Linked DNA regions of Homo sapiens: region 1 is linked to region 2. Evidence: fine-mapped expression QTL. A gene starts in region 2. The other region holds a variant in brackets. All regions are shown on one strand. Distances are from middle to middle.

The links. PIP is the estimated chance that this variant, and not a neighbour inherited with it, causes the effect.
Region 1: its variant is fine-mapped to the expression of ZNF217 in whole blood (INTERVAL, PIP 0.96).

Annotation. Positions count from the first base shown.
Region 1 is chr20:53,635,658-53,651,171 of GRCh38, reverse strand. No RefSeq gene overlaps it. Among named protein-coding and RNA genes, the nearest start is that of ZNF217, 50 kb to the right of the region's middle. RefSeq lists enhancers at 7,754-7,803, 7,844-7,893. The variant G/A (reference allele first, on the strand shown) is at 7,869.
Region 2 is chr20:53,585,378-53,600,891 of GRCh38, reverse strand. ZNF217 (zinc finger protein 217) reads left to right here and starts at 7,053. Exons shown (of 6, transcript NM_006526.3): 1 at 7,053-7,136. RefSeq lists enhancers at 2,092-2,592, 4,183-4,232 and silencers at 6,033-6,872, 6,963-7,042, 7,533-7,682, 8,103-8,342.

The DNA of each region.
Region 1 (15,514 bases), 50 kb before region 2:
TGGCCTCCCAAAGTGCTGGGATTACAGGCATGAGCCATCGTGCCCGGCCTATAATAGCTTAATTTTTTAAACTTTTATTTCAATAACTTTTGGGGTACAGGTGGTTTTGGGGTTACATAAACTCTTTAGTGGTGACTTCTGTGATTTTAGTGCACCCGTCACCCCAGTGCATGCTGCACCCAATATGTAGACTTATTCTCAGAATATTCTTTTTTTTTTTTTTGAGACGGAGTCTCACTGTGTCGCCCATGCTGGAGTGCCCTGGTGGGATCTCAGCTGACTGCAACCTCCGCCTCCCGGGTTGAAGCTATTCTTCTGCCTCAGCCTCCCAATTAGCTGGGATTACAAGCGCTCAGCCGCCATGTCCAGCTGATTTTTGTATTTTTAGTAGAGACGGGGTGTTGGCCAGGCTCGTCTCCAACTCCTGACCTCAAGTGATCCGCCCACCTTGGCCTCCCAAAGTGCTGGGATTACAGGCATGAGCCACTGCACCCGGCCCAAATATTATATTTTATCAATTCTAAAGTGCACTTTAGTTTTTACATTTTAATATAACTAAAATCAATATGTATTTTGCAGTCAATGGCATCTTGCTATTATTTGAAAACATTTATTTAATAGTCCGTAAAATAATGGAACATGCCCAGATGCAGTGGTTTATGCCTGTAATCCCAGCACTTTGAAGGGTCAAGATAGGAGGATCGCTTGAGCCCAGGAGCTCGAGACCAGCCTGGCCAATATAGTGACAGAGACCCCAACTCTACAGAATAAATAAATAAGTAAATAAAATAATGGAAAATCTCACAAATGGTGACGTTTTAGGTTCGACAAAATACAGTAACTAGCCCATTTAGTTTTCTGAAATTTTGATGTTATTGCTTAAATATTTGTTCTGTGGTACACAACCGTAGGATTAATAATATTGATGAAAATAATAAAAGAGTAATAAGCATGTATTGAGCTCTTCCTGTGTGAAGTTCTGGACAAATCCTCATAAAGCCTTAAAAGGCAGATACTAAGCTGGGCGCAGTGGCTCATGCCTGTAATCCCAGCACTCTGGGAGGCCAAGGCAGGCAGATCACGAGGTCAGGAGATTGAAACCATCCTGGCTAACATGATGAAACACGGTCTCTACTAAAAACACAAAAAATTAGCCAGGCATGGTGGCACGTGCCTGGAGTCCCAGCTATTCGGGAGGCTGAGGCCGGAGAATTGCTTGAACCTGGGAGGCTGAGGTTGCAGTGAGCCAAGATCACGCCACTGCTCTCCAGCCTGGGCGACAGAGCAAGACTCTGTCTCAAAAAGAAAAAAAAAAACAAAAACAAAAACAGGCAGATACTAGGCCAGGCACGGTGGCTCATGCCTGTAATCCCACACCTTGGAAGGCCCAGGCGGGTGGATTATCTGAGGTCAGGAGTTCGAGACAAGCCTGACCAACATTGTGAAACCCTGTCTCTACTAAAAATACAAAAATATTAGCCGGGCGTGGTGACAGGCGCCTGTAATTCCAGCTACTCAGGAGGCTAAGGCAGGAGAATCGCTTGAACCCGGTAGGCGGAGGTTGCAGTGAGCCAAGATCTTGCCACTGCACTCCAACCTGGGCAACAGAGGGAGACTCCGTCTCAAAAACAAAAAAAGGTAGATACAATCCCATTTTATCCCATTTTGCAGATTAAGCAACGGGAGCAGAGAAACTATTGCAGGGCTCACCTTGCCATCCTTACCCTAATATCAGTTCTGTCATTATATAAAAGTTTGATATTTTGTTCATCATGGGCTGTTTGCATTTATTTTGATTTTTTTTTTTTTTTGAGACACAGTCTCACTCTATTGCCCAGGCTGGAGTGCAGTGATGCAATCTCGGCTCACTGCAACCTCCATCTCCTGGGTTCAAGTGATTCTCCTGCCTCAGCCTCTTGAGTAGCTGGGATTACAGGCACGCACCACCATGCCTGTCATTTTTTTTTGTATTTTTAGTAGATCCGGAGTTTCACCATGTTGGTTAGGCTGGTCTCGAACTCCTGACCTTGTGATCTGCCCGCCTCAGCCTCTCAAAGTGTTGGGATTACAGGCGTGAGCCATGTTGCCCGGCCTATTTTGATTTTTTTTATTTTTCTTTTTGAGATGAAGTCTTGCTGTGTCACCCAGGCTGGAGTGCAGTGAAGTGATCTTGGCTCACTGCAACCTCTGCCTCCCAGGTTCAAGCAATTCTCCTGCCTCCGCCTCTTGAGTAGCTGGGACTACAAGCGTGTACCACCACGCCTGGCTAATTTTTCCATTTTTAGTAGAAACGGGGTTTCACTATGAGGGCCAGGGTGGTCTCAAACTCCTGACCTCAAGAGATCCGCCCACCTCGGCCTCCCAAAATGCGGGGACTACAGGTGTGAGCCACCATGCCTGGCCTATTATTTTTTTTTGAGTCAGAGTCTTGCTGTGTTGCCCAGGCTGGAATGCAGTGGCTCAATCTCGGCTCACCACAACCTTCGCCTCCCAGGTTCAAGCGATTTTCCTGCCTCAGTCTCCCGAGTAGCTGGGACTACAGGGGCATGCCACCATGCCCAGCTAATTTTTTTTTTTTTTTTGACATGGAGTTTTGGTCTTGTTGCCCAGGCTGGAGTGCAATGGCACGATCTCAGCTCACCGCAACCTCTGCCTCCTGGGTTCAAGTGATTCTTCTGCCTCAGCCTCCCGAGTAGCTGGGATTACAGGCATGCACCACCATGCCCGGCTAATTTTGTATTTTTAGCAGAAATGGGGTTTCCTCATGTTGGTCAGGCTGGTCTCAAACTCCCGACCTCAGGTGATCCGCCCGCCTCGGCCTCCCAAAGTGCTGGGCTTACAGGCGTGAGCCACTGTGCCCAGCCTAAAGTATTATTTATATAGGCCCAGTGCAGTGGCTTATGCTTGTAATATCAGCGCTTTGGGAGGCTGAGGTGGGAGGATGGCTTCAACCCTGGAGGTTGAGACCAGTCTGGGCAACACAGTGAGACCCCATCTCTATATAAATAATTTTTTAAATAAAACATTGAAATAATTAATTAATTAATAATTAGCCAGGTGTGGTGGTGCACCCCTGTGGTCTTAGCTACTCAGGAGGCTGAAGTGGGAGGATCACTTGAGCCCTGGAGTTCTAGGCTGCAGTGAGCTATGATCGCACCACTGCAACTCCAGCCTGGGTGACAGAAGAAAAAGAAAAAAATCGTATATATATGTATAATTTATGTAAATCACTGAGTTTTTGGCATCGTCGAAATATTGTGCCTGGCCCTGGGTCAAGAACAAAAATTATGATTCTGGTTTTCTGACCTTAGGCCCCGTTTCCTTCAGAGCAATTATCACGATTATTAATAATGAACTTGTTTGCTCTCTTGATCGCTTTCAGCCTTTCTTGACTAAAACATACACTCCAGGAGAGCAGGGAAAATGTTCATTGTCAGGGGTTAGAACATAACCCGCTAACAGGGCACGGTTGCTCATAACTATAATCCCAGCACTCTGGGTGGCTGAGATGGGCGGATCACTTGAACCCAGGAATTTGAGACCAGCTTGGACTACACAGCAAGACCCCCATCTCTACCAAAAAATAAAAAATTAGCCAGTTGTGGTGGCACATGCCTATAGTCCCAGCTACTGGGGTGGTTGAAGTGGGAGGATCACTTGAGCCTGGGAGACAGAGGTTCCAGTGAGCCAAGATTACGCCACTGCACTCCAGCCTGGGCAACAGAGCCAAAAAAACAGAACCTGCTTTCATACTTTTCAACAAATTAGCCTCGAATACCTCCGAGATGTCATATTAGGTGCCAAATACAGCTGTGAGCAGGTTTCTGTCCTCTTGGGGTTACTGTCTTTGTATAAAAAAGTAAAAAATAATAATAATAAATCCATGGCCAGGCGCAGTGGCTCATACCTGTAATCCCAGCACTTTGGGAGACCAAGGCAGACGGGTCACTTGAGGTCAGGAGTTCCAGACCAGCTTGGCCAAGCTGGTGAAAGCCTGTCTCTACTAAAAATACAAAAATTAGCTGGTCATGGTGGTGCACACCTGTAATCCCAGCTACTCGGGAGGCTGAGGCAATGAACCCAAGAGGTTGAGGCTGCAGTGAGCCGAGACCGTGCCACTGTACTCCAAACCTGGGCAACAGAGTGAGACCCTGTCTCAAAAAAAAAAAAAAAAAAAAAAGAGAGGGAGAGAGAGAGAGAGAGAGAGAGAGATGAGGTCTCCTTACGTTGCCCAGGCTCATCTGGAACTCCTGGGCTGAAGGGATCCTTGGCCTCAGCCTCCCAAAATGCTGGCATGGGGGAGCCACTATGCCTGCTGCTCTTGGGAATTCTTGAGTGTTGCCTCTGGTTAAGTTCTACTTAGAAGTTAACATTCTCCCCAAGGCCAGGAGTGGTGGCTCACACCTGCACCTGTAGTCCCAGTAGTCCCAGCTACTCAGGAATCTAAGGCAGGAGGATCAACTGAGCCCAGGAGTTCAAGGCTGCAGAGCTATGATCATGCTGCTGCACTCCAGCCTGGGCGAGAGAGTGAGACCCTGTCCCTATTAAAAAAAAAAAAAAAAATTCTCCCTTACAAACAAAATGCTCATTGACTGTAATTAGAAGTGCCCACGCTGGGGACTGGTATGGCACAGAGCTCTACTTTGAACTGATTTTCAGCTGGAGTGGTGAGCTAATGATATCTCGCTCCATTCTTTTTCTGCCCTCTTTCTTCTTTTTTTTTCTTTTATTTTTTTTTTGAGATGGCGTCTCGCTCTGTCACCCAGGCTGGAGTGCGGTGGTCCCATCTCAGCTCACTGCAACCTCTGCCTCCCAGGTTCAAGCGATTCTCCTGCCTCAGTCTCCCGCGTATCTGGGATTACAGGCACTTGCCATCATGCCCAGCTAAATTTTTTTTTTTCCTGTAGAGACAGGGTTTCACCATTTTGGCCAGGCTGGCCTCGAAACTCCTGACCTCAAGTGATCTGCCTGCCTCAGCCTCCCAAAGTGCTGGGATTATAGGCGTGAGCCACTGCGCCTGGCCTCTCCCCTCTTTCTTCCTCTGCCTCTACCCCATGATGCACCAACCAGTATTCAGGACCCAATTTTATTTTGTGTCTGCTCTAAAAGCTAACTTTACCAGGGGTTTAGGCCATTAAAACACATTATTTGAAGTTTGCAGAATGCATTTACATTTTATGATCATTACAGCTTCAAAAAAAAAAGATGGTAATGTTGGTTTCCTTTCACATTGACCAACTTCTCTTCACATAAATACAAGCCAGTTGAATGGCATTCCAATATTACATAATTATTTGCACTCTAACTGAAATTACGGAATACTGAAAAAGTAGATTGGGATTATTTTAAATTGAAACTGTGCCCAAAGTTTTATTACTTATCAACTTTCTCTGAATGCTATATCATGACAATTATATTTTATTGTCATGAATTATGTTAACTTCATATTTCACAAAGCACACACTACATGTGCAAGGCCTTTGCTGAACCCAGGGAAAGGAAGAATGATAAACAGAAGCTGATCTTTGCCTTTGAGTTTACTTAACATATAAATAGCAGGTATCTTCCAGATGCGAGTAACTGTACTAAATACTTTAGATTAGGGGTCAGTAAACATTCTGCAAAGCATCAGCTAATACCTGTTTTAGGCTTTGAGCGCTAGAGGCTTTGTCTTAACCGGAAGTAGAACAGAGGCCATTGCCAATATGTAAATGAGTAGGCTCAACTGTGTTCCAATAAAACTTTATTTACAGAAATAAGCAGCTGCCCAGATTGACCTAGATGGCTGAGACCTGCTTTCAATGGATTGTCATCCATCTGTCACAGCCCACTCTTTTTTTTTTTGAGACAGAGTCTTGCTCTGTCGCCCAGGCTGAAGTGCAGTGGCATGATCTTTGGCTCACAGCAACCTTTGCCTCCTGGGTTCAAGTGATTCTCCTGCCTCAGTCTCTAAGTAGCTGGGATTACAGGTGCGCGCCACCATGCCTGGATAATTTTTGTATTTTTAGTAGAGACGGGTTTCATCATGTTGGCCAGGCTGGTCTTGAATTCTTGGCCTCAGGTGATCTACCCATCTCAGCCTCCCAAAATGCTGGGGTTACACTGCGCCCAGCCGCACAGCCCACTCTTAAGACTAGCACTATTATTATTATTATTATCATCATTTCATTTCATTTTATTTATTCTTTTGAGACATAGTCTCATTCTGTTGCCCAGGCTGGAGTGCTGTGGCCTGATGTCGGCTCACTGCAACCTCTGCCTCCCAGGCTCAAGTGATTCTCATGCCTCAGCCTCCCCAGCAGCTGGGATTACAGGCACCCGCCACCACACCCAGCCTGGGCGACAGAGAGAGATCCTGTCGAAAGAAAGAAGAAAGAAAGAAAGGGAGAAAGAAAGAGAAAGAGGGAGGGACAGAGGGAGGGAGGGAAACCACCTGAATATTTGTGTTAGCTTAAACTCAATTTCAGCTGTAATCATGGAAATCAAATTTATATAAGAAAATATCAGATTAATTCAGTTTTCATACACACATTCACTCGAATTTTTAAATTTCATCAATTGATTTTAGAAAAGAGCAGCATAGTGAAAAAAAGTGAAGAACTATATTCTTGCCAAATTTATACCTAAATTTTACTGAAATATTAATTAGTTTTTTTTGTTGTTGTTTTTGTTTTTCTGGAGACAAGGTCTTGCTTTGTTGCCCAGGCTGGAGTTCGGTGACAATCTTGGCTCACTGCAGCGTCAACCTCCCAGGCTCAAGAGATTCTTCCACCACAGCCTCCAGACTAGTTGGGACTACAGGTGCACACCACCACAACCAGCGATCTCGGCTCACTGCAACCTCTGCCTCCTGGGTTCAAGCAATTCTCCTGCCTCGGCCTCCCTAGTAGCTGGGATTACGGGCATGCACCACCATGCCCAGCTAATTTTGTATTTTTAGTAGAGACGGGGTTTCTCCATGTTGGTCAGGCTGGTCTCCAACTCCCTACCTCAGGTGATCCACCCACTTAGGCCTCTCAAAGGTGCTGGGATTACAGGTATGAGCCATTGCGCCTGGCCCATTTTTCATAAGAATTATAAAATTGCATTGTTTCTGACATGGGCGTAATCTATGATCTGCCTTCACCAAAAACATGCAGAGGAAAATAAAATACATATTTTTTATTTTTAGTTTCTCTGCTCTTTTGGCTTTATTGTTTGAAATCTTTTTATTAGTAATAGGTATGTTTGGTGTTCACTTTTTCCATACAGTGCATTAATGTGTGGTTTAAATACAAATTTAAGTGCAAAATTATAAGACAGTAGCCTGGAAAGGCCCATTTGGGCAGATGTGGCTTATTAAAAATCCCAGCTGGGTGCAGTGGCTCACCCCTGTAATCCCAACATTTTGGGAGGCTGAGATGGGCAGATCACCTGAGGTCAGGAGTTCAAGACCAGCCTGACCAAGATGGTGAAACACTGAGTCTACTAAAAATACAAAAATTAGCTGGGCATATGCTGGGCACCTGGAATCCCAGCTACTCAGGAGGCTAAGGCAGGAGAATCCCTTGAACCTGGGAGGCAGAAGTTGCAGTGAGCCAAGATCGTGCCATTGCACTTCAGCCTGGGTGACAAGAGCAAAACTCGGTGTCAAAAAAAAAAAAAAAATCACAATTTTTGGGTTTCTTTTAAAACTTAAAAATGGAGGATGAATTTCCAGCATCCTGCTACTCGGACGGAGGAAACAGAACAGGAACAAAGCTGAAGTGAGCTAGGCAGGCCGAGGGAACCTCTGGCTGCCTCCCATTGCTGCTGCACGCAGGTAATGCAGCGGTTCATAGCCTGCCTTCCAGCCCTGGTGTTAGACGACTTTCAGTTACAGTATTGTG[G/A]TGAATCATTTCCTTCCAAGGCTCAGGGTGATCTATCACACGGGCGTGTTGTCTAGATTTTAACAACAATATGAGCAGAAAAGTTCCTCATTCCAGAAATGCAAAACAAATTACATAAGAAGTGTATTCTTTAAAGGAAAAAGCAAAGTCTACATAAAGGCATAATGAATAGGAAGAACAATTATGCGTGGGAAAACAAAGCTCTTTAAAAAAATCATCAAAGAAATGAGGTTTTTCTTCCCTTGTCTAATTTATAACAGTGACGTTCCTTTTGAAGACAGGAGCAGGGGCATAGGAGCTGGAGTATCGGCCTTAGCTGTGCCTTTTGTAATGTCACTAGGGACAGGGAGGGGGAGGAGTTGTGACGGTGTTGGAAACACTGGCCCTGGTGTATTATTGCTTGCACTACAGGAGTTTTTGGTTGCCAAATCAATACCTTGGTTGTCCTTGAAAAACCCTGCAGGTCTGTTTTTAATAGCTTGCTACACCGGTGAAATTACCCTGATTACTTAGCAAAGCCTCACCTTTGATCCACTGATCTAGTTAGAGACCTGTGTGAGAGAGAGAGAGCCTGTGGCCCCAGAGATATTAACAAATTAGAAGAAGAAGGAAGGGAAAACTGCAACTTACAGAAATACAGGAAGTCTGAGGTTTGTCAGTTGTTGAAACATTTGATATTGTCTTTTAAGAGTCTCCGTGGTCTGAGAGCTTTCTTTGGGATAACAAAATACTAACATTAAAGAGCAACGTTCGGGCACAGTGACTCACGCCTATAATCCCAGCACTTTGGGAGGCCAAGGTGGGTGGTTCACGAGGTCAGGAGTTCGAGACCAGCCTGACCAACATGGTGAAATCCTGTCTCTACTAAAAGTACAAAAATTAACCGGGCATGGTGTCATGTGCTTGTAATCCCAGTAGGAGAATCGCTTGAACCCGGGAGGCGGAGGTTGTAGTGAGTCGAGATCGCGCCACTATGCTCCAGCCTAGGCGACAGAGCAAGACTCTGTCTCAAACAAACAAACAAAAAAAGAGCAACAACAATAACACCACAGCAAAGCCACCTGCTATTCAAAATCAAGAACAGTGGATCAATCCAAATTAAAGAATGGTGGCTGGTATTGTTTTCCACCTCACTCTCCCAAGAGATACATATGCCCAAAAACATTTCCATTTCCTGTTCATGCAACAGTGAAGTGAAGGGTCATTTTCCTTCCAATTTTTGTACTCATTAGACAGAGTGCCTTTTAAGCATTTATTTATTTTTAAATTAACAGACTTTATTTATTTATTTATTTTTGAGAGGGCGTTTTGCTTTTGTCACCCAGGCTGGAGTGCAATGGCATGATCTCGGCTCACTGCAACCTCTGCCTCCTGGGTTCAAGCAATTATCATACCTCAGCCTCCTGAGTAGCTGGGACTACAGACGTGTGCCACTAGGCCTAGCTAATTTTTTTGTATTTTTAGTAGAGACGGGGTTTCACCATTTTGGCCAGTCTGGTCTCGAACTCCTGACCTCAGGTAATCTGCCCGCCTCAGCCTCCCAAAGTGCTAGGATTACAGGCATGAGCCACCACGCCCGACCCAGACTTTATTTTTTTAGAGGAGTTTTAGTTTACAGAAAATTGACCAGACGGTGTGACAAGTTCTCATATGCCCTCTTCTCCAACTCCCTCCTTCCATCTGTACAATTCCCCCTATTAGTAACATCCTGCATTGATGTGGTCCATTTGATACACTTGATGAACGAATAGTAATACATTATTACTAATTAACGTTTATAGTTTACATTACAGTTCACTCTTTGTGTTGTACAGGACTATGAGTTTTGACAAATGCATAGTGACATGTATCTACCATTACAGTATCATACAGAATAGTTTCACTGCCCTAAAATACCCTCCTTTTATATTTCAACAAGCTGCCCTTCCAAGTTCTGTCCTTTCAACATAACTGCTCTTTTTTTTTTTTGAGACAGAGTCTTGCTCTGTCGCCCAGGCTGGAGTGCAGTGGCTCGATCTCGGCTCGCTGCAACCTCCGCCTCCTGGGGTCAAGCGATTCTCCTGCCTGTCTCCCGAGTAACTGGGATTACAGGCACACACTACCACACCTGGCTAATTTTTAAATATTTTTAGTAGAGACAGGGTTTCACCATATTGGTCAGGCTGGTCTTAAGCTCCTGACCTTGTGATCCACCTTCTTCGGCCTCCCAAAGTGCTGGGATTACAGGCGTGAACCAATGCACCCAGCCCATAACTGCTCATTTTTTCTCGTTTTTCCTTCTCCAAGGTGCTTTTATTTTAGGAATAGATGAAAGTTGATTCTCTTTGTTGGCAGAGACCTACAGAAAGTCATTTTGTGGCCAAGCATAGTGGCTCACGCCTGTAATCCCAGCACTCTGGGAGACCGAGGCGGGTGGATCATCTGAGGCCAGGAGGTCGATACCAGCCTGGTCAACATAGGGAAACCCCATCTCTACTAAAAATACAAAAATTATCAGGTTGTGGTGGTGCACGCCTATAGTCCCAGCTACTCAGGAGGCTGAGGCGGGAGAATCCCTTTAACCAAGGAGGCGGAGGTTGCAGTGAGCCAAGATTGGACTCACTGCACTTTAGCCTGGGCAACAGAGCAAGACTCTGTCTCAAAAAAATAAAGAAGGCCGGGCGCGGTGGCTCACGCCTGTAATCCCAGCACTTTGGGAGGCCAAGGCGGGCAGATCAGGAGGTCAGGAGATCGAGACCATCCTGGCTAACACGGTGAAACACTGTCTCTACTAAAAATACAAAAAATTAGCCGGGCGTGGTGGAGGGTGCCTGTAATCCCAGCTACTCAGGAGACTGAGGCAGGAGAATCGCTTGAACCCAGGAGGCAGAGGTTGCAATGAGCTGAGATCATGCCATTGCACTCCAGCCTGGGCGACAGAGTGAGACTTTGTTTGGCTGCAACTTGGATATCCCTGTAAAGTCTTCCATCCTGGTGTTCGTATCTTCACCCATGCAGAATCAGACCAAAACTTGCCTTGCCAAACACCCAAGAGAAGCCCCTTCACCTGCAAAGATAGGGCAGACAAGGAACTGGAAAGGGACTGTCTAACCATTGCCTGTTCCTCCCGTCTCATCTCACTTTATTTTATAGTTGTCTATCCTGATCGTCATATAAAACTGCCCAAACTCAGGAATGTTTTATCTTGCCCTCCTTGTCTGGAAGGTGCACTCTCTGGTTCCCAAGTCCCCTCTGTTACTGCCTGCATGTCTAGTGTTGAAGCCTGTGACTGAGCCCAAAGCCTTCTCCTAAACTGAGTGTTTATGGGGTACATTGCTAGGCTTTTGGGTAGAAAATGCAGAATGTAAATAGCAGAAAATTATTGTACCTCCCTTATTTACTCATTAAATTTAACACATATTTGAGTTTCTATGATGTCAGGCTTTGCTCAACGGTAAGACAATTTCCGTGCCCTAGTGGAAGCTTACAGTTTCACCAAAGAAGACAAACACTAAACATACAAATTTATAGGTAGAAAGAAAATAAAACAGGGTCATGGACACAAGATGAATGGGGAGCTGTTTGGTTAAAGGAGTTGGGGAAGGTCCCTGCAGTGCTCATATTTGGACCAAGCTATGAATAAAGTTAACCAGCAAGCCATGCAAAAGTCTATGAGTATTCCAGGCAGAGGAGACTGCAGACAAAGACCCCAGGGCTGAATGAGCTGGCTCGGCCAGAAGAAAGGAAAGGATAGTGCAATGATATTAATAGCTGATAGGCCAGGAGAAAATTGGTAAGACTAGTGCTCTGGAAACATTGACATGGTAAGAACTTTAGATTTTATTATGCAAAAAGATGAAAGCCCACTGGAGAGGTCATCTGTGGGATGGGGTAAGCAATAAGCATGGTATGAGTTACATTTTCTCTTTCCCATCTGCATCCCTTGTCTCAGTGATGTCGTCCAGTGCTATGGCCCTACGATGCTGACACCCACATATGTATCTCAAACTTAGACCTTTCCCAGCTCTTGCTTTCCATATCCAGCTACTTACTTGACAATTCCACTGGAACATCCAAAAGGCATCTTAAACTTACTATAACACAAACTGAGTACCTTGTCTTCCTCCCACAGTCTTCTCAGTTCTGGTAAAGGAGAGTCCAGCATTTATTGGCTTAGGCCAGAAACCTCGGAGTCATCCCTGACTGCTCCCTCATGTATCTAGTCTAGAGCAAATCCTGTCTATTGTACCTTCAACATGGATGTAGAATCCCACTAGATAAATTCCAGCTCCTCTGTCAGCTCCCTGGCTCAACCCCTCATCATTTGTCATCCAGATTATTAGAATGCCTTCATTGCTAGTTTCACTGTTTCCATTCTTGCCCTCCCTTTCACTCTATCTTTCACTCTATTCTTTTTATTTTTTTTGAGATGGAGTCTCACTTTGTTGCCCAGGCTGGAGTGGAGTGGCGTGATCTCGGCTCACTGCAATCTCTGCCTCCCGGATTTGAGGTATTCTCCTGCCTCAGCCTCCCAAGTAGCTGGGATTACAGGCAAACACCACTACACCTGGCTAAGTTTTGTATTTTTAGTAGAGACGGGGTTTTGCCATTTTGGCCAGGCTGATCTCGACCTCAGGTGATCTACCCGCATTGGCCTCCCAAAGTGCTGGGATTACAGATGTGAACCACCGTGCCCAGCCAGTCTATTCTTAAAATAGAGAGATCCTGTTAAAATAAGCCAGACCACATCACCGCTTGCCTCAAAACTGCCATGGCGGGTGGGTGCAGTGGCTCACAGCTATAATCCCGGCACCTTGGGAAGCCAAGGTGAGAGGATCACCTGAGGACAGGAGTTTAAGACCAGCCTGGGCAACGTAGTCAGACACTATCTCTACAAGAAATTTTAAAATTAGCCAGGCATGGTGGCTCATGTCTGTAGTCCCAGCTACTTGGGAGAATGAGGTGGGAGGATCACTTGAGGCCAGGAGGTTGAGGCTGCAGTAAGCTATGATTGCACCACTGTGCTCCAGCCTGGATGACAGAGCAAAACCCTATCTCTCTCTCTCACACACACACACACACACACACACACACACACACACACACACACACCTGCCATGGCTCCCATCTGCCTCAGGCTAGGAGCAAAGACTGTGCGTGATCTGGTCCATCCTTGCTTTCTGACCTCATCCACTCTGCTCCAGTCATAGTGAGTTTCATGCCTTGCCAAGAACACAGCAGACATCCTATTTCAGGGTCTTTGCATTTGCTGTGACATCTGCTAGAATATTCCCCCAGATAAATGCATGACTGGCTCCCTCACCTGCCTCAGGTGTCTCTTCAAATGACATCTTAGGGCAGGAGTCAGCGAATGGTTAAAAACCAGAGAGTAGGCTGGGCGTGGTGGCTCATGCCTATAATCCCAGCACTTTGGGAGGCCAAGGAGGGCGGATCACCTGAGGTCGGGAGATCAAGACCATCCTGGCTAACACGGTGAAACCTCTTCTCTACTAAAAATACAAAAAATTAGCCAGGCCTGGTGGCACATGCCTGTAATCCCAGCTACTCAGGAGGCCGAGGCAGGAGAATCGCTTGAACTTGAGAGGTAGAGGTTGCAGTGAGCCAAGATCGCACCATTGCGCTCCAGCCTGGGCAACAGGAGCGAAACTCCCTCTCAAACAAACAAACAAACAAACAAACAAACCAGAGGGTGGATATTTTAGGTTCTGTGGGCCACAGGGTCTCTGTGGCAGATACTCAACTCTGCCTTTGTCAGGCAAAAGCAACCACAGACAGTAAGTAAACCAATGAGCATAGCTGTGTTCCAATAAAACTTCATTGATACCGGGCACGGTAGCTCACGCCTGTAATCCCGGCACTTTGGGAGGCTGAGGCAGGTGGATTACCTGAGGTCAGGAGTTCAAGACCAGCCTGGCCAACATGGTGAAACCCCATCTCTACTAAAAATAAAAATTAGCCGGGCGTGGTGGCACACCCCTGTAATCCCAGCTACCCGGGAGGCTGAGGCAGGAGAATTGCTTGAGCCCAGGAGGCAGAGGTTGCAGTGAGCCGAGATCATGCCATTGAACTCCAGTCTGGGCAACAGATCGGGACTCAGGGTAAAAAAAAAGAAAAAAAAAAAAAAAAGAAACTTCACTGTGGGCACTGAGATAGAATGTCACATAAGTTACTTTCAGGTGTCAGAAAACATTCTTCCTTTGACTTTTTTCAACTATTTAAAAATGTAAGACAATTCTTAGCTTGCCATTGTACATAAACAGGCAATAGGCTGGATTTGGCCTCAGTCCGTAATTAGTTGACCCCCTGCCTTAGGGAGTACTTCCCTGGCCATGCTCTCAAAAATTACAAACACACACACAATCCCTATTCAACCTATCCCTTTTCCCTTTCCTTTCCTTTCCTTTCCTTTCCTTTCCTTTCCTTTCCTTCCTTTCCTTCCTTTCCTCCTCCTCCTTCTTCTTCTTCCTCTTTTTCTTCTTCTTCTTCCTCTTTTTCTTCTTCTTCTTCCTCTTCTTCTTCTTTTTTTTTTTTGTTTTTGAGACAGGGTCTTGCTCTGTTGCCCAAGCTAGAGGGCAATAGCATGATCATGGCTCACTGCAGACTCAACCTCCTGGGCTCAGGTGATCCTTCCACCTCAGCCTCCCGAGTGGCTGGGACCACAGGCATGTGCCATCAAGCCTGGATAACTTTTTAAAAATTTTTGTAGAGACAAGGTCTTGGTACATTGCCCAGGCTGGTCTCAAACTCCTAGCCTCAAGCAATCTTCCTGTCTCAGCCTACCAAAGTGCTTAAATTGCAGGTATGAGGCACTGTACCTCGCCTTTTCTTTTCTTCCTTTTCATTTCATTTCTTTTCTTTACTCTTCTCTTCTTTCTCTTTTCTTTCTGTGGCCGGCCTTTCCTTTCTTTTCTTTCTTTCTCTCTTTCTTTCTCTTCCTTCCTTCTTTCCTTCCTTCCTTCCTTCCTTCCTTCCTTCCTTCCTTCCTTCCTTCCTTCCTTCCTTCTTCTTTCCTCTCTCTGTCTCACTCTGTCATCCAGGCTGGAGTGCAGTGGCACATTCCTAGCTCACTGCTGCCTCGAACTCCTGGGCTCAAGGGATTCTCCTGCCTTAGCCTGCCCCTGAAGTAGCTGAGAGTACAACTGGGCGCCAACATGTCTGGCTAATTTGTTAATTTTTTTTTCTTTTTTTTTGTGGCCGAGCTCAGTGGCTCAGGCCTGTAATCCCAGCAATTTGGAAGGCCAAGGCGGTGGATCACCTGAGGTCAGGAGTTCGAGACCAGCCTGATCAATATGATGAAACCCCGTCTCTACTAAAAATACAAAAATTAGCCGGGTATAGTGGCATGCACCTGTAATACCAGCTACTAGGGAGGCTGAGACAGGAGAATCGCTTGAACTGGGGAGGCAGAGGTTGCAGTGAGTCCAGATCATACCATTGCACTCCAGCCTGGGCAACAAAAGCGAAACTCTGTCTCAAAAAAAAAAATTTTTTTTTTAAGAAATGGAGTCTTGCTATGTTGTCCAGGCTGCTCTTGAGCTCCAGGCCTCAAGCGATTCTCCCAGTTTGCCCTACCAAAGCATTGGAATTACAGGCAGGAGCCACTGCACCCGGCCCTATCCTTCTTTCTTAACAGCTTATCATCATTT
Region 2 (15,514 bases):
GGGTTTCACCATGTTGGTCAGGCTGGTCTCGAACTGCTGACCTCGTGATCCACCCACCTCGGCCTCCCAAAGTGCTGGGATTACAGGCGTGAGCCACCACACCCAGCAGGACTCCAACTTCTTACAGTTTGTCATATCCTCTTTGTTAAACCAGGATGGGGTCTTTTGGGAGACATTAACATCTCTTGGGAAAGAAACAGTTACTTGACGTTCAATGGTTCTTTTGGTTTTATTTCCATTTCCTTTAGTGGCTTCCCAGTGCTCTTGGAATAAATCCCAGAGTCTTAGCATGGCCCACCAGATCTTGACAGCCATGTTCTCAGGACTTTTGTTTTGTTTTGTTGTTGTTGTTTTTTTTTTGTTTAGTTGTTGTTTTCTGAGACAGGATCTTACTCTGTTGCCCAGGCTGAGTACAGTGGCACAATCTCGGCTTATTGCAGCCTCAACCTCCCTGGCTCAAGTGATCCTCCCACCTCATCCTCCTGAGTAGCTGGGAGTATAGGCACACAACGGCTAATTTTTTATTTTTTTGTAGACATGGGGTCTCGCTATGTTGCCCGGGCTGGTCTCAAACACCTGGACTCAATCAGTCCTCCCAACTCTCACTCTCAAAATGCTGGAATTATGAATTACAGACATGAGCCATCTCACAAGCCATCTCGCCCAGCCGGGAACTTTGTTTTTATTCTAAGATGCATGAGGGCTGTGTTATCGGGAATTTGTTTTTATTCTAAGACGCATGAGGGCCATGACATAACCAGACGACGACTTTTGAAAAGGTCAATTGTGGCCGCTTAGAATGGGACGGTCTACATTTCTGCCCTGTAAACACAGGGACCTCTCATGTAGAGACAAAATCAGCAGTTGGAAATGTGTTTTGGGAGTTGAGGGGAGAGTTCCAGGTGGGAAATATGGACATTTAGGAGCTTTCCAAATATTGATGGCATGCTGAAGCTTCGGACTGGATAAAATCACATGAATAAGAAAGTGTTGCTAGCATTGGGCCCTGGGCATGTCAGCACCTGGAAGTCAAAGAAGAGAGTCTAAAGAAGGAGCCAAGGGGACTGGGAGGGAGCAGCCAGCGAGGACTGACGGAGATCAGGATAGCATGGGGACCCAACTGCAAGGCAGGAAAGAGCTCTATCAAGTGTTGCAGATTTGGCAAATACTAGGGAACAGAGAACTGATCACTGATATCCTGCTGCAACGAGAGTCAAATCCCCGGTCTTCACACGGGCCTGCCTTGATTTCTTGCTCCTCTGTCCCTATCCTGTCTTCATTCCATGGCCCCCAGACACACTGGCTGCCTTCCAATTCTTTCTCCAAGCTTGGCTCTCTTCCTCTTTGGTCCTTCTCACCTTCTGTTCCCTCTGAATGAATGGAACACTCCTCCCCATCCCGGTATGATTTGCCACCTGACTTCCTGGGAGGTCTCTGCTCCTCAGGGAGCCTCAATCTATAACAGCAGGCTTTTCCCCTCTCCTATGACCCAGTCCCAGTAGGTTGTAAATATAACTACCAGTGTGTTGTCTGCTTCCCTCAAGAAGATAAGCCCCAATGGGACAAGGAATTCGTTTGTTTTGCTTAATGTTCTATCTCCCATGCCTAGAACAGTGCCAGGGCCCCCAAAACTCTAGGCTCACAAGCTTTGTAGTGTGTCTCATTTCATTCTCCAGAGTCTTGAAGAAATGTGACTATTACTTATATAAGTAACACAAACAATTATTATAATTGTCGTCTTCATCATCTTCATCATTCCCCTTTTATAGATAAGGAAACTGAAACCTGAGAGAGATTAAATAATATTCTAGGGTTATGCAGCTCTCCAGAGGTAGAATCTGAGTATCTGAGCCCAAGTTATTGGAGAGAAGATGTTCATGACCAGGACACTATGTCAGAGCCTCCCCCCTCCTCCCCCTCCCAGGGAACTAGGGGTTTTAAACCACTCTCAGAACAGAAGCCAAGTTCTTGAAGAGAATGAGAAAGGAGGTGCTAGGCAAGGGGAACCCCAGGGCTGAAGGCTCTAGGTCAGAGAGAAGGCTGGAGTTCAGATGCCTCAGTGAAGGGCTTGCCAGGACTTGAGGCTGGAGTTAGGCAGGGACCAGATCTGCAGAGCTGGTGGGGGAAGCTGTGGAGTTTTTTTTCCCTCAAGGCAATAGGAAGCCATTAAGGGGTGGTGAATTTATCTGATATCCGTGGTAAAAGTCTTTTTGGGTAAAAGTCTTGGATTATAGGTAGAGAAAGCATTAAGGGAAACCTAGAAAGGAAGAAGTTTGGAGAAACCTGCATATACAGTACTGTCTCTGTCTGGAGGAGAACACGTGATGGAGCTGACACCCTTTCTTCCCTTGCATTTGGGTCCCCATGCTCTCCTGCGGTCCCTCAGACCTCACTGCCTGCTCCCTCTCAGTCCCCTTTGCTCTCTTTCTCTTCTCCTTGACTTCCAGGCGCTGAACCACCCAAGGGCCCAATACTAGCACCTCTTTCGTGTGATTTTATCCAGTCTGATGGCTCAACATGCCATCAGTATTTGGAAAGCTCCTAAATACATAATTCTTACCGGGAACTCTCCCTTCCCAACACATTTCCAACAGCAGACTCCGCGTTCACGTGCATGGCACCTGCCAGTGGTACCTGGTGTAGGCTTTTGTTAGAGATAAAGATAAATGGACACAATTGAGACATATGAAGGTTTGCTGATGGATGCAAGGTCTGTGTAGGGTGGAGTAGATGGAGATGAAATATCCTGATTAGATTTTAAGATTCTGGCTTGAGATTATAATGATGATTGAATTTCAATTAATGTTAGTCACCCTCTTCTTCCCCTCCGTCCCTCATTCCAAAACTTCCTGTTTGGAATATCTAATGAAGGCAGAAAACTTTAAAGAGGCGTTCCCAGTGTTGTGTTTTGTGTGCAATTTTTAAGGGAGTTTTTACATTAACATTTTGAGTGAAGGTAATTTCAGAAAACTATCCAGAATATTAGAGGAGTCATGAGTTGTGTTTGCAGTGGGGGAGGGCACTCATCGAATAGGACAAATCCAGTTAAAAAATGCTGTCAACCTTATCAAGATTGACTAATCCAATCAAGTTGGGAGGGTACTGAAACCTTTATTTAAATTAAGTCTTATTCTTGACCCCTCCCTTTTTGCTGTGCTTATAAAAACCCGCAATCACATCTCTTCCAGTATTGTTTGGAGCCAGGTAGAGTGAAGTCCTACAGAGTTATCAGGTTCCAGACCCTGCCTTCTCTTCTGAAAGGTAAGTTCTGCTATATATATATATACATATATATAAATATATTTTTTTAATAGTATATTATTGTGATACTTTACAGAAGAGTGACTTGCATGGGATCAAGAAACTTAATAGAAAAGAGCAATGTGGTGCTCCTTCGAGCTGTTTGTTATTCCTACTTACTTGAGTGCATTTAGTCTTGTTCAAAGGGCTGTCCCTGTTTCCTTCTCAAATGTCCTTTGTAGTTTGCAGATGCTGGCAGGTTTGCCTAACTTTTTCATGTTCTTTTCCTGCTAACTCCTCACTGCAGTTTTTCAGGTTTTCCTGCTCTGAACACTGAATTCTTTTACGTCCCGTATCTATGTTGGCTCTGTTTCAGCTCCAGGGATTTACACACAGTTTCCAAATAGTTTTTCTATAATAGTTCCACAGTAAAATAACGTCTTGTGAAATAAGAAGATCCTACCTCATTCTGTTCTTCTAATTAAGGCTGAGTCTCAAAAGAGGATTCCAGTAAGTGTTAAATACAGCAAATCAGAAGTTTTTTTTTTTTTTTTCTTTTTTTTTTTTTGTTATGTTACTAGATCTGAGCATGCTGTGACTGGCAGGATCTGGATAGAAAATCAGATGTTGGCTAAACGAAGAGGCCTTATATCACTAGGATTAAATTAGAGATAATGGTGTGATTTTATAAGCGCATACTAGGAAATATGTCTTAAGGAGGGCCTGTTTGGATGATTGTGAAAAATGAGGTGTAGCTGATGTTTGCTGCATTGAAAGAAGGTGAAGTGGGGATTTTCTGCCCCTTCTCCAAGTACCATGTGCAGAGCTTCTCTTTTGGTTCCATTCTTTGTTTTTTTGCTGGCATCTAGTAGCACCTGACTCCTTTAGAGATGGCCTACGCAGGGAGTGATGGCGAAGCTGGATTTCTTGTGGGTGGAGCTAAGCATAGGAAGACCAACGTTCGATTTTCAATTTTCACTTTGTGCAGTATGAGTTCCTAGCTTTTATTACAAAACCAAATGCTTCCAGTGTTCTCCTGTTACTTTTGGAGTTTCCATATTTTAATTGTTTGAACTATACATGCTTTCCAAATAAATGGGAAGTATGAGTCTCACATTCTAAGGGAAGAATGTGTCTTAGGGAAAAGCCCTCCCAGGCGAATTCAGATCCCTCTATGTCCTTCTGAAAACACAGTATGTATTTGCAACCCAGCAGTCAGTCACTGGCAGAATTTTGCAACGATTTCCCAGTTTCGTTGGCACGACTCCAGGACAAGGTTCTTTGTAATTCTTTGCTCAAACATAAGGAGGATCACATATAAATAAAACTCTTAGCAGACAGATCAGTGAATTATAATCATCTTTCAGTTTTAAAAGCTACAACATAATAAGGCGCTCTCTTTTTTTTTTTTGAGAGAGGCGGCGAAACAGTAACAAATCATGATGCTATAATGTGAACAAAGTGGTAGCTTTGGAGGGCACAGGGGGAAAACAAGCACAACCGTTTTTGCTCAGAAAATAATTCAGTAGCAACAAGGTCTGAGAGCCAGGAATCTCCTTGTTCTTACTGAAACGATTATTTGTCAAAATATTTGATTGTTTCCCTATTCCCCCTGAAAAGTTTGGACTTTTCTTTTTGCTCGATTTTGACACTAGAATTTTTAACTATCAGTGCTATTGTGTTTACAGCATTCAAGGTCTCGGAGTTCAAAGGTTATCCATTAACATGTAGAATGAGGTTACACTTCAGGCTCAACCTGGTTCCACTTGGTCATAGTTTCTTTGTTGTGTAGCAAGGCTCATAGTCATTTGTTTTCATAAAGTTAAATGAAGTTTCTTGTTTATGAAGTGTTTTTGGACTGTGTTTTAGAATGTGACAATAAGTTTAAAAAATATATTTTAAAGATAGGTATTCATCCTTTGTCAGAAAAGGAATCCTAATACTAAAAGTGATCAATATCAGTGGACTTGAGTGAAAAAAAATTCACCCAATTTAGTTTTTTAGTGCTGGCCTAAGAATCTACTGGCACTGCTAATTAATTGTGAGTAATTGATTCGCTTCCTTTTTAAAAAAGACTAACCAGACCATATGTGGGGTTAGTAGTTATATATAAAATGACAGCAAAACATGACACTTGGCAAATTCTTCCCCTTTGCTGAGCTGTCTTCTCAAATTCCTTTTCCTATTTATTAAGATTGCATTGCTCACCAGCTCCGGATCGTTTCTGTAGTGCGTTCTTTCTTTTGATTTAGGAAATAGATATTTTAAATGCTTTTCTTGATGTGTTTTAAAGTTTTTTCATTTTGGATATGCTGAAGGCCGGTAAAAACACAAATATTTGGCTATTTTGTTAGTAGCGACTTGCATAGATCCATTTCACATTTGCATTAGTTTGCATTTTGGGGTAGAAAAATTGTGGATGTGCTTGTTATGTCTATGGTTCCTCGAAGCTTATTTAAAATGGGGAAATATCACAGGCCTTAGGAATCAGGATCTTTTTTTTGTCCTTTTTTTCAGTAAGGAAAGAAAACATTTGGGAAACGCTTTAAATGAGTTGTGCGTAGGGAGGAGGGGAAAGGGTAGCGGTTTTTTTTTTTTTTTTTTTGTCCCTTTTTTTGTCCCCGGTTTCCTCCAAATGGATTTCTATCAAAACCAAGTAGATTCTTGGAACCTAGGCTAAGTTTAGAAATCTCAAGTTAGAATAGCGCAAGCCCAGCCCTTTCAGAAAAAAAAAAATCACAACAATTAAATAGCTTTCTGAAGATACTCATTTAAAAACTGTTTATCTTCTCGACCTTCCTCAAGCTTGAAGAAAATCTTTGGTGTTTTTCGCGCACAGCTGCCTTCTAACCCGCGAGCAACGGCGTTAAGGTTTTTGTTTGTAATTCGGGGTGACCCAGGGGTTCGGGCCGCGGGCCCCTCCCCTCGCCCGCGCACACCTTGCAGAGGAGGGGGCGGCGGGGACAGGGCCGGATCTGCGCCTGCGCACACCCTCGCGGCCCCCTCCCTCCGGCCTCCCCGGGTACCTGTCACGGCTACCGCCGCGGCGCGCGCCCGCCACGTTAAGCCGGATGGCGGGAGGAGGGGTGCGGGGCGGGGGGCGCGGGGAGGGTGGCACGGCGCGCGCGTGCGCGGGAGTCGCCGAGCGAGAACTGGGAGTGCGCGCGCTCGCCGCTCGCTCCCGTCCCGGAGGCGGAGTCGGCGGCGGGGGGCGGAGCAGGGGCGCGCCTATGCTAGTCACGTGGGCGCTGGGGCGGGGCCGGGGCGGTGTGGGGCGTGGCCGGGCGGCCGGTGAAGGCAGGGGGCGGGGCGGCCGGTGAAGGCAGGGGGCGGGGCGTCTCCGAGCGGCGGGGCCGAGGGAGGGCGCAACAGCTGCTCCCTGAACACTTTCTGACCCAACAGTCCCCCAGCGCCGGACGCGCCGCGCCCCGGCGGCTCTAGGGACCCCCCGCGCCTGCACTGTCCCCGCGCGGACGAGTAGGGGGCGCCCGCGCCTTTGCCCCCGTGCGCACCCCCGCCCCGCTCACCTTAGCCCCGCGCCCGAGGTGAGCCCGGCCCCTATATTCTCCGGGCGGGGGTGGGGGTGGGGGACGCTCCTTTTTTGTTGGGGGGGGGTCTTGGAGGCGCGAAGGCACTAGGCTCCTCGGCGGATGGCTGCACCCCTCGCCCGCGGCTCCCCGTGTCTTTTGGGGGGCCGGGTGCGGGCGCGGAATCCGGGAGGTGTCCGCACAAAAGGCTGAGAGAAACTCCGCGACGCCTCCCTCCCTCCCTCCGCCCTCCCCGCCCCCTCCCCTCCGCGCCCGCTCCTCCTCATTCAAACCCGGCCGGCCCGAGTGGTGTCAGCTCAGTCCCGGCCGCCGCCGCGCGAGGAAATGGCCGAGGAGCCGGAGCCGCAGGTAAAGGGGGCGCGCCCCCCGCCCGCGCCAGCCGGGGCGCCCGCCCGGTCCTGCGGAGGCTCCCGCGCCGCCCCCGAGGCGCCCGGCTCTCGTTGTCTTGTCCCCCCCCAGGATGACCTCAGTTCCCCGTCTCAGCTTTCTATCCGCTCCTCTAGGGCGCCCCCTCCCCAGCCGGCTCCTGCGCTTCCGCCCGCGGGAAGGTGCGGGCGATCCCGGGCTGCATCCGCTCTTGGCCGTCACACTCACGCCGCACGATTCAGAGGGGCTTGGGGTGCGGGGTTCCCTGAATCTCCGCCGGGAGCGGGGGTCTGCGGGGGTGGGCGGTGGGGGGCTGTTCCGAAAAGTTGGGTCGCCCCGCGGGGCGGGTCTCCCAATTTGCCCAGTTGGCCCTTGGGGCGCGGGCGGAGGGGGAACGTCGGCGTAGGGTCCCCCCGCGATGCCCGGGGAAGGGCCGGGGCAAGTTGGAAGCGGCCAAAACAATGCGTCCGGACGGGCATCCCCCCGTAAACAATGGCCGGGACGGTCCACTCGGGCCGGGCGGAGGGCGCCTCTAAGGGACCGCGGGAGGGGCTGGGCCTCGCCGCGGACCCCGACGCGCGCCCCGTGACTCCCTCGGGTGCCCAAAAATCTGTCCCCGGGAGTCTTGGGGCGCCTGCTCATCCCTGAACAGGGATGCACGGGGCTGCGTTTCCTGGATGTGTGCGATAAGGTGGCTTTTTTTTTCCCTCCTCTAATTTTAAAGATTTTTTTAAGTCTTAATGTTCTATAAACACTTAAAGAATATCTTTACAACTCAATTCTAGTGGAACACCCAAAGCCAGCTGGAAGCAGAACTGGGAACTCTAAAGGGCAGGAAGGATTGAAATGCTAGCCCAAAAGTGCTGCTGCTTTTTTTTTTCTTTTCTTTTTTTTTTTTTTTAAGGGAAGTTTCTGCCAGGAGGTGCCGAGTGGTGAAACCGCTCAGTTTCAGGCACAGCCCTCTTGTCTCTCGATTTGGCCCCGACTGCGAGCCGGACGGGATGGTGGAGAGGCGGAGGGCGCTGCTGGGGGCCCGGGAGGCTGGATTTGGGGCTGCCTGGGCGGTCCCGCCCGAGGGGCAAGACCCGGCACGCGGGGCGCGCGCCGGAACCTGGGTCCCGGGAGTTTGAGAAGATGTTCAGGGCCCGGGTTGGAACCCACATTTTGGGATTCTGGGTAGGGCCACCGAAGACGGGAAGGCGCTTTCTTGGGCGGGTGGGGGTGGGGTGAGCAGGCAGGGAGTTTTCCGCCAGGTTTAGTTACAGGAGCTAGAAAAGGCCACTTCTGGGACCCTGGCATCTGGGCCGCCCTGAGAGCCCCAGAAACTTTTTTTTCTTTTTCTTTCCCCCCACCCCCCAGAAAAGGGTAGTCATTTCAGGTTTAAGGCTTTGGTGTATTGTTCTACCTCGAAATTCCTTGAGCCTCAGTTTATCTTCCTGAATCAGTCTATGGGGCTTGGAGCGTTGAACATTCCTAAACACGGAGAAAGTAAATGGCGGTTGCAGTGGTCCACTGGCCAGTTTGGGGGTCCTGTATTATTGGCCACTGTGTGTCCTACAGCGTAGCTAGGTTTTTCAGTTTTCTAGATCGTTTGGAAGCATTAAGCTGTATGTTTTAAGAAGCCTAGGTCTGATTTAGTTCAGGTTGATTCAATTATGTCTTCATTGCTTTTGAGTTGGTTGAATGACTTGACATGAGATTAAGCTCAACAAAAGAAAAGGCGAGGTAGCAACAGCTGCCGTCCAGGCCTGGCCACTAGGTAGGGGTCTTAGGAGGCCTTTTACCTTCTCTTTTGTATATGTCAAGAAGGAGATTTACAATGTTCTTATTTTACTGTACTTCTTTCCCCTGAAGTGGATGTTCTTTCTTGATTGATATCAAACAAGACTTAAAATGCTAAGTTTTATGATACTTAGACAACGAGTAATAGATGTAGTTTCTAAAAGCCTTGATGTGTCTGCAGTGACAAGTGCAGAGGAATAACCTCATTGCTTTTTGTCTGAAAATATAACAGGCAAGCCACTAGTTTGTGCTTACTTAATGTGTGCTAAGAACTTTTAAGGTGTGTCCTTAATGGTAGATAACTTTTTTCCTTCTGGGAAGTCATATTTATTTTAGATATTGTTTTGTTCAGGGTTCTGGAGACTAATAGTGTTTCGTTTTGTTTCTTAACCCTGATGTTGCTGCCATTTTTAATCGGTTATATTTAAATTCAAGAGGCAGTAAGTTATTTAAAATACAGTTGTCAGTAGTTCCAAGGCAGATTCATCATTTATTTTAATTGTTAGAATAGGATTAATAATCTGTTTGTTTGGAATTTTAATGATTTGGCGTGATGAGGAAAGCTAGTCCTTTAGAATTGTCTTTATTTGCCTACAGAAGGAGGAAGTAGAGGACAAGATATGACTTTTATTGGTGAAGGACACACACTTTTTTCTTTAGTGTCCCACTCTTTTAATCCTTTTGTCTTCACAACACTTTTCTAACGCTTTGCAGTTTGACCTTTGCTGTTTTTTAGTAACTTGTGAGATCGAAGTTTAGCAGTTGTGTTGGGTTCCTATTCCCTTTCACTTCTTACTCAAAAAAAGGAACTAATACACCACTTAGAAAAAATTTGTAGAAAACTTTTCTCCCCTTTACCCTGAGGAATCTATTTTGGTTAACAGGTCAAAATTTTTTTCCAGGTAGTAGGGGAGGAAGGAGGAGCAGTGAAGGTTTTGACTTTGACTGCCTTTACTTTTTTAAGGTGGGGGTAGATTTGCATTTTTCTTTGTGAGCCTCCATTTTTGGCAGGAAAACTTCAGGGAGGAGTAGGAGCCCCTAATCCCCTTCCAGTGGACTTGTTTTGGAGGAAATCTGAAAATAAGACTTAATCATCAAGTCACTTATAAACTGATGAAATAATTAAGGAATATAATGGCCTGGCAATGACTAAGTCCTTCTATCTCCTCATTGCAGATACATGCTAATCACTTTTTTCTCTCTTAACAACATTTATTATGAAATGGCATGTTTTTGCCACAGCAGGGTAGCCATTTCCCAACCCTGGAGCACTCTTAATTCTGAGATGCCTGATTAGAGCCTCAGGGGTCCCAAAAGATGTGCTGTTTTCCCACTTTATAAAATTACATTCTTTTCTCACAGTTGTCACAAACATGATATTGGTTGATAAGAACTTTGGAGTAGTTTTAATGACTCTTGACTGCCTGAAAGATGCCACTTTAAAAAAGGAGCTACTTTTAGCTGACTCTATTTGAAAGTAAATGATTGGACCCTTTTTATGTTTTATATGAAGCTTTGTTTCCATTTGCTTAAAAAAAAAATTCAAATTGTCCCATCTCCTGTATGCCCATATGGCCTGTATGTTATAGATTTTGAGGTTGCTGGGTATGATTTGTTTTAAATCGTTCCTTCCTAATTTCCCATTTCAGTTTAATCCCTGAGCGGAATGTTTAATGAATGAATTGGGAAGGTGAAGCTGAAGGACTGAGCAATGGCTGTTTTCAAGCCTTAGAATTAGAAAGTAGGAATGAAAAACATGAGACAGTTGCATAAACTGAGTATTCCACTAATAAAATAAATGTAATAAGATTTTAAATCCAGTTACTACAATTGAAATCTAAAAACAGAATAGTTTTTAGATTACTGGGATGTTAAAAAATAAAAACCTGAAAGGTATTTACAGAACAGCTACCAACATGGAATTAAAGGAATCTCAATCTTGTTAAATATTCTAAAGAGGGAAGGGTTTGGTTACAGCATGTAAATTAAACTTGAGACAATGGCGGGCGGGGGGGTCTTGATCCGCACACCTCTTCTCCAGATTCTGCGGGGGGGAGGGGTGTTAAAATTTAAACGCACATGGAAGAAAAAAAAAATGTATTACACAAAGACGGCAGGAAATTTCTTAAATTCGGGTGAAGGAAGCCTGATTATTGAATATCACTTAATGGCCTCATTTTAGAGGCAGTATAAAAACTTTTCTGAAATGCTCATGTTTTTGGAGTAAGGTGAACTGGGTTATTTTTCCCCAACCAGTAATAACAGACAAATTTGCAGTGGTATCTGGGGCAAAGGTTTTTGAATTTAGACCACGAGGAGAGATAGAAATCTGACTTTAAGGAAGTGGAAGAACAGGGACCATTCTTTCCTAAAATCTGCAGCTCACGATGACATGCTCAATTCTTGTACACATCTATCTTCCAGATAAATAGGGGGGAAGCCCCCGCTAGCCAGCTGCCGCCACATATTACCCTTTTATATTTAACGTTGGAATGCTTTCCATTTGAACATTTGTTGACTGACTGTTCTGAACATCTCCATTACTTCCTGTCCAGGGTATCAGCATAATTGAGTTACTGGAAATTTGGGGACAGTTTGGTAATTTTATGATAAAGTTGAGAAATAAAATTACTAAACCTGAAAAGACAGCTGAAGAAGTTGTATGAGAGAGTTAGTTGGATTCCTTACTTAGCCTTTGTTCTTATTAAGCTTTACAAAACTTGTTTCTGACCTCCACATGACTGTACTTCCTATAGAAAAGCTCCCCCAGACTCAGAAGCTAGGTTTTTAACAGACTCGTGTAGTGTTTCTGTATTGGTGTTCCATTATTTTCTGGTGTGTCTGGAAACCTTTGGAATTTAAAATGTAGTTAAGTGGACTGGAAATGTAGACTCTAGACATTTCTTGAATCAGCGTTAGGAGTAATAGTTACTTTTACTTCTACCTCTATCAAATAAGGATAACAAAGCATCTCAGTTATACTGAAGTGTTTTTGTTTCTTTTGTAATCAATATAGAGTTTTTCTTCAGTTTATAAATCTACTGAACAATGATTGTATTACTAATTGAAAGGAGACTTTTCCCCTTGATTTTGAAAGCAAACAGGTGACTGGAAAGAGCCAGATATACAACTTTAGTATGTAGTCAGCAAAAGATAGGATGGGGAGGGGAATATTTAAATCTTGCAGAAGAACGATCTTATGCCTTAAAAGGCATTGCCTAAGCTTGTATTTAACTAGGTTACTTGAATTGTGTTTAATTGAGAGCGCTCATTGGAAGAAGTGGTATGGTGTAGTGGTCTAGTAGTGGGCATAGTTGTGTGTGTGTGTGTATATATATATATATATATATATATATATATAGATAGATGTGTGTATACACACGTTCAGTGTTTTCATTACAGAGAGTTAGTGCAGGTAAAGATAGAACAGTTTATTAACAGTTAATTAATTTGCTGAAATCTTTTTTTTTTGGTGCAGTTAGGCCTGTCAAATTTTTACAGATATTTAAGGTTGTACTGGTTAAGTAGTAGTAATAGGAGAAACGGATAGCAATGCTTAATCTTGCTTAATTAAAGTTTTTAAAAATTCACTTTCCTTATATTATAACTTTTTTTCAGATCAGGATGTTTTTAAAAACCACTTTGCAGATGACAGTATCTGTTAATATTGAAACTAAAACTAGTATGTTATACTTTAAGTTCTTACTAAGATCCCTTAACTGACCTTAACTGATTTAAGATGAATTCAGGCAGTTTCTAGTTAATGACACTCAAATATGCTATATGATTATATTTTTATAGTACTTTGGTCTCTAATCCTATTTAAAATTGGTAATTTATGAACAATTTCAGCAAAATGAAATTATTTCCTTTACAAGCTTCCCAAGTTGAAGAGTTTAGGTTGTAACCTTAAACTTTGAATATTCCAATCTTTTTCTTTCGCTTAACTTGGAAGCATCTTTCCACAGCTAAATTAGGAAAGTTGGGTTGACCATTTAGCCTCATGGGTGTGACCCCTAGTAATTTCCTTGAAACAGTGTTGAAGAATTTAGAGCATTAAAAATAAAAAATAAAAAAACCTGTAGCTTTTTGATTGTTAGTAGATGGCTATGCAGAGTTTTCTCCACTTGTCAGATTAAGAAAAAATACTGTGCGTAAAAGACAGAGGAAAAACTTTCAGAGAAAATGTAAACTTCTAGCCAGGTCTTGGAGATAATTTTGTAGTTTTCAGGGTACAAATGCATTGGCCAGAGAATAGCAATTTAAGTTGAATTTTTTAATAACTCCTTATTTGGACACCTCAGTAACTTGGGAAAAAGTAGCTTTGTTAGCAGTATGACAAATTGTGTATAAATATAATTTTTCTGTGTTTTTGAGGACTTTGAATACCTTATTCAAAGCTGTATTATGGTAGATGCATATTCCATATCAACAATGTAAGATAACCTGTTAATCAGAAGAAACAGAGGCTGTGCTGTTTCTAAAAGTTAACAGTTTGAGTACATCAGGATGTAAAGAAAAATATTCCCAAGTTACAGTAATTGTCAGCAAAGTGGCTGTTGTACCTAGTTAGTTGTACTTAAGCACAGATTACTGTGCTTTTTATTAAGCAGTGTAGAATGTGTCCTATTTGCTGATTTCAAGATCTACAGGTAGTGGTAGAATTCATGGTAGCTTTAGTCACAAATCAGTGTGTAATTAGTGACCTAAAGAACATCACACTTCTATTCCAGCCTTTTCTAGCAATATGGTTCCTACTGGATTTCAAAGATTACGCTCTGGTAAATTTTAAAAGTATCTACTGAAATAATCCCAATAGAAGTTTCTTTCAAAATATGGCTATACTCAATAGCCCACTTGCCTTAGGTGTTAGGGGGTATATGAGTTAAGTTCTGTCGTTTACCTGAGTAAAGATTTTAAAATGTTTTTAAACATTGGAAAACATTTTTGTGAAGTACTTTTCAGTAAGCTTAGCGTGTTCATAACGCTCACTTTCTTGCAAGCTAGAAGCATTTAGATTATAGTGTTGGATTATAATATCCTGCTTTTCTCCTCCAGTTCTTTGTCAAGAAAGACAATTTACTTTATCAGCAGTGCCATCGGTTTACTGCTGCCTTCTGTGTGCAGGAGTGTGGAGAGCTGGAGGCTTCTGGGAAGGCTTGTGTTTGTGCACACACCCCATTCAATTGGAACGGTGATTTGCTGTTAGTAGATTAGAATTTCTATTTTGCTGTATTCTGTTATTAACGTCTTTATTGTTACAACCACTTTAACGATTACTGATGAGCAAATTGGTTTTAAGGGATGTAAACCTGGTTTAAAGTATTATTCATTGTCTTAGAGTTTAAGGAAGTGTTTTGTCTAGTGTGTTAGCAGTTTCTAAGTCAAGAGCTGAAGGCATTTGCTGTCAGAGATAGCCCTAGGATGCCCAGCATTTTTGTTTTGGAGGGTCATAAGGAGAGTGAGTATAAATCCAAATAGTGCAGTTTTTTTTTTGCTTGTGCTGATCAACTTTATGGTGTGATTAAATACGATTTTTTTTATTACGCTCTTGAAATTGTACTCTTGAAGTTGCAGAATGGCAATTAGATGGCAGTCGCTGATAGCCATGTAGAAGTTTTGATGAACATGCAAGTTAATTTTAATTTCTGATCAGTTACGGTTAGTGACTGTGGCCAAACGTGTGTACTGATTCTACACGTGTGCTAATTCCGTGACATTTATTCACCAGCTATGTGTCGAGTGCCTAATCCTGTGTCAGGCACCTTGTTCCAGGCATTGGGGGCAGCAGTGGACAAGGCAACAGTCTCCATCCTGAGGTGTTACTTTTAGAAAAAGACAGTTACAAGCAAACAAACAGGATGGTTTTAGATCTGGACAGAGGTTTTCAGAGGAAGTCATCCTTGAGCTGTCACAATACTTTGGGGGGGTAGGGTGTGCTGGGTAGTCAGGGATGGCACATTTGGGGTGCCTAAGGATTGCTGTGGCCCTGGGAGCCTAGGACAGTTGGTCACAATTGACTATTAGAGTCAGTCTCAGAAGCTTTCCTGGAGAAAGAATTCTGCTGTTTTGCCAGGAGGGTTTCCTTCCCCATCTGACCACACAAGAAGACCCCTTGGCCTAGAATGCCTGCCCTCATCTCCAGGTCTCCCAGGCTGTTCACCCTCCCAGGCAAAGTGGAAGCTTCCTCTGTCCTAAGATCGTTTCCCACTGAACCTCCTTCATTGTCCTTCACCGCAGTGAAATAATCCTACAAGGTCTTGTGTGGAGAGTGATGGTAACTTCTTTAACCCAGATAATTGAGAATTGGAACCAAAACATCTTTCTATTAATAAATATTTTCAGTAACTAAGTTATGCTGTTTCCCTGAGTGGGAAATAACACTCCATCATATTTCTTATTTTTTTGGGCGGAGAGGGGAGACTTGCTCTGTTGCCCAGGCTGGACCAGTGGTGCGATCTTGGCTCACTGCAACCTCCACCTCCTGGGTTCAAGTGATTCCCAAATAGCTGGGATTACAGGTGTGTATTACCATGCCCAGCTAATTTTTGTATTTTTAGCAGATAAGGGGTTTCACC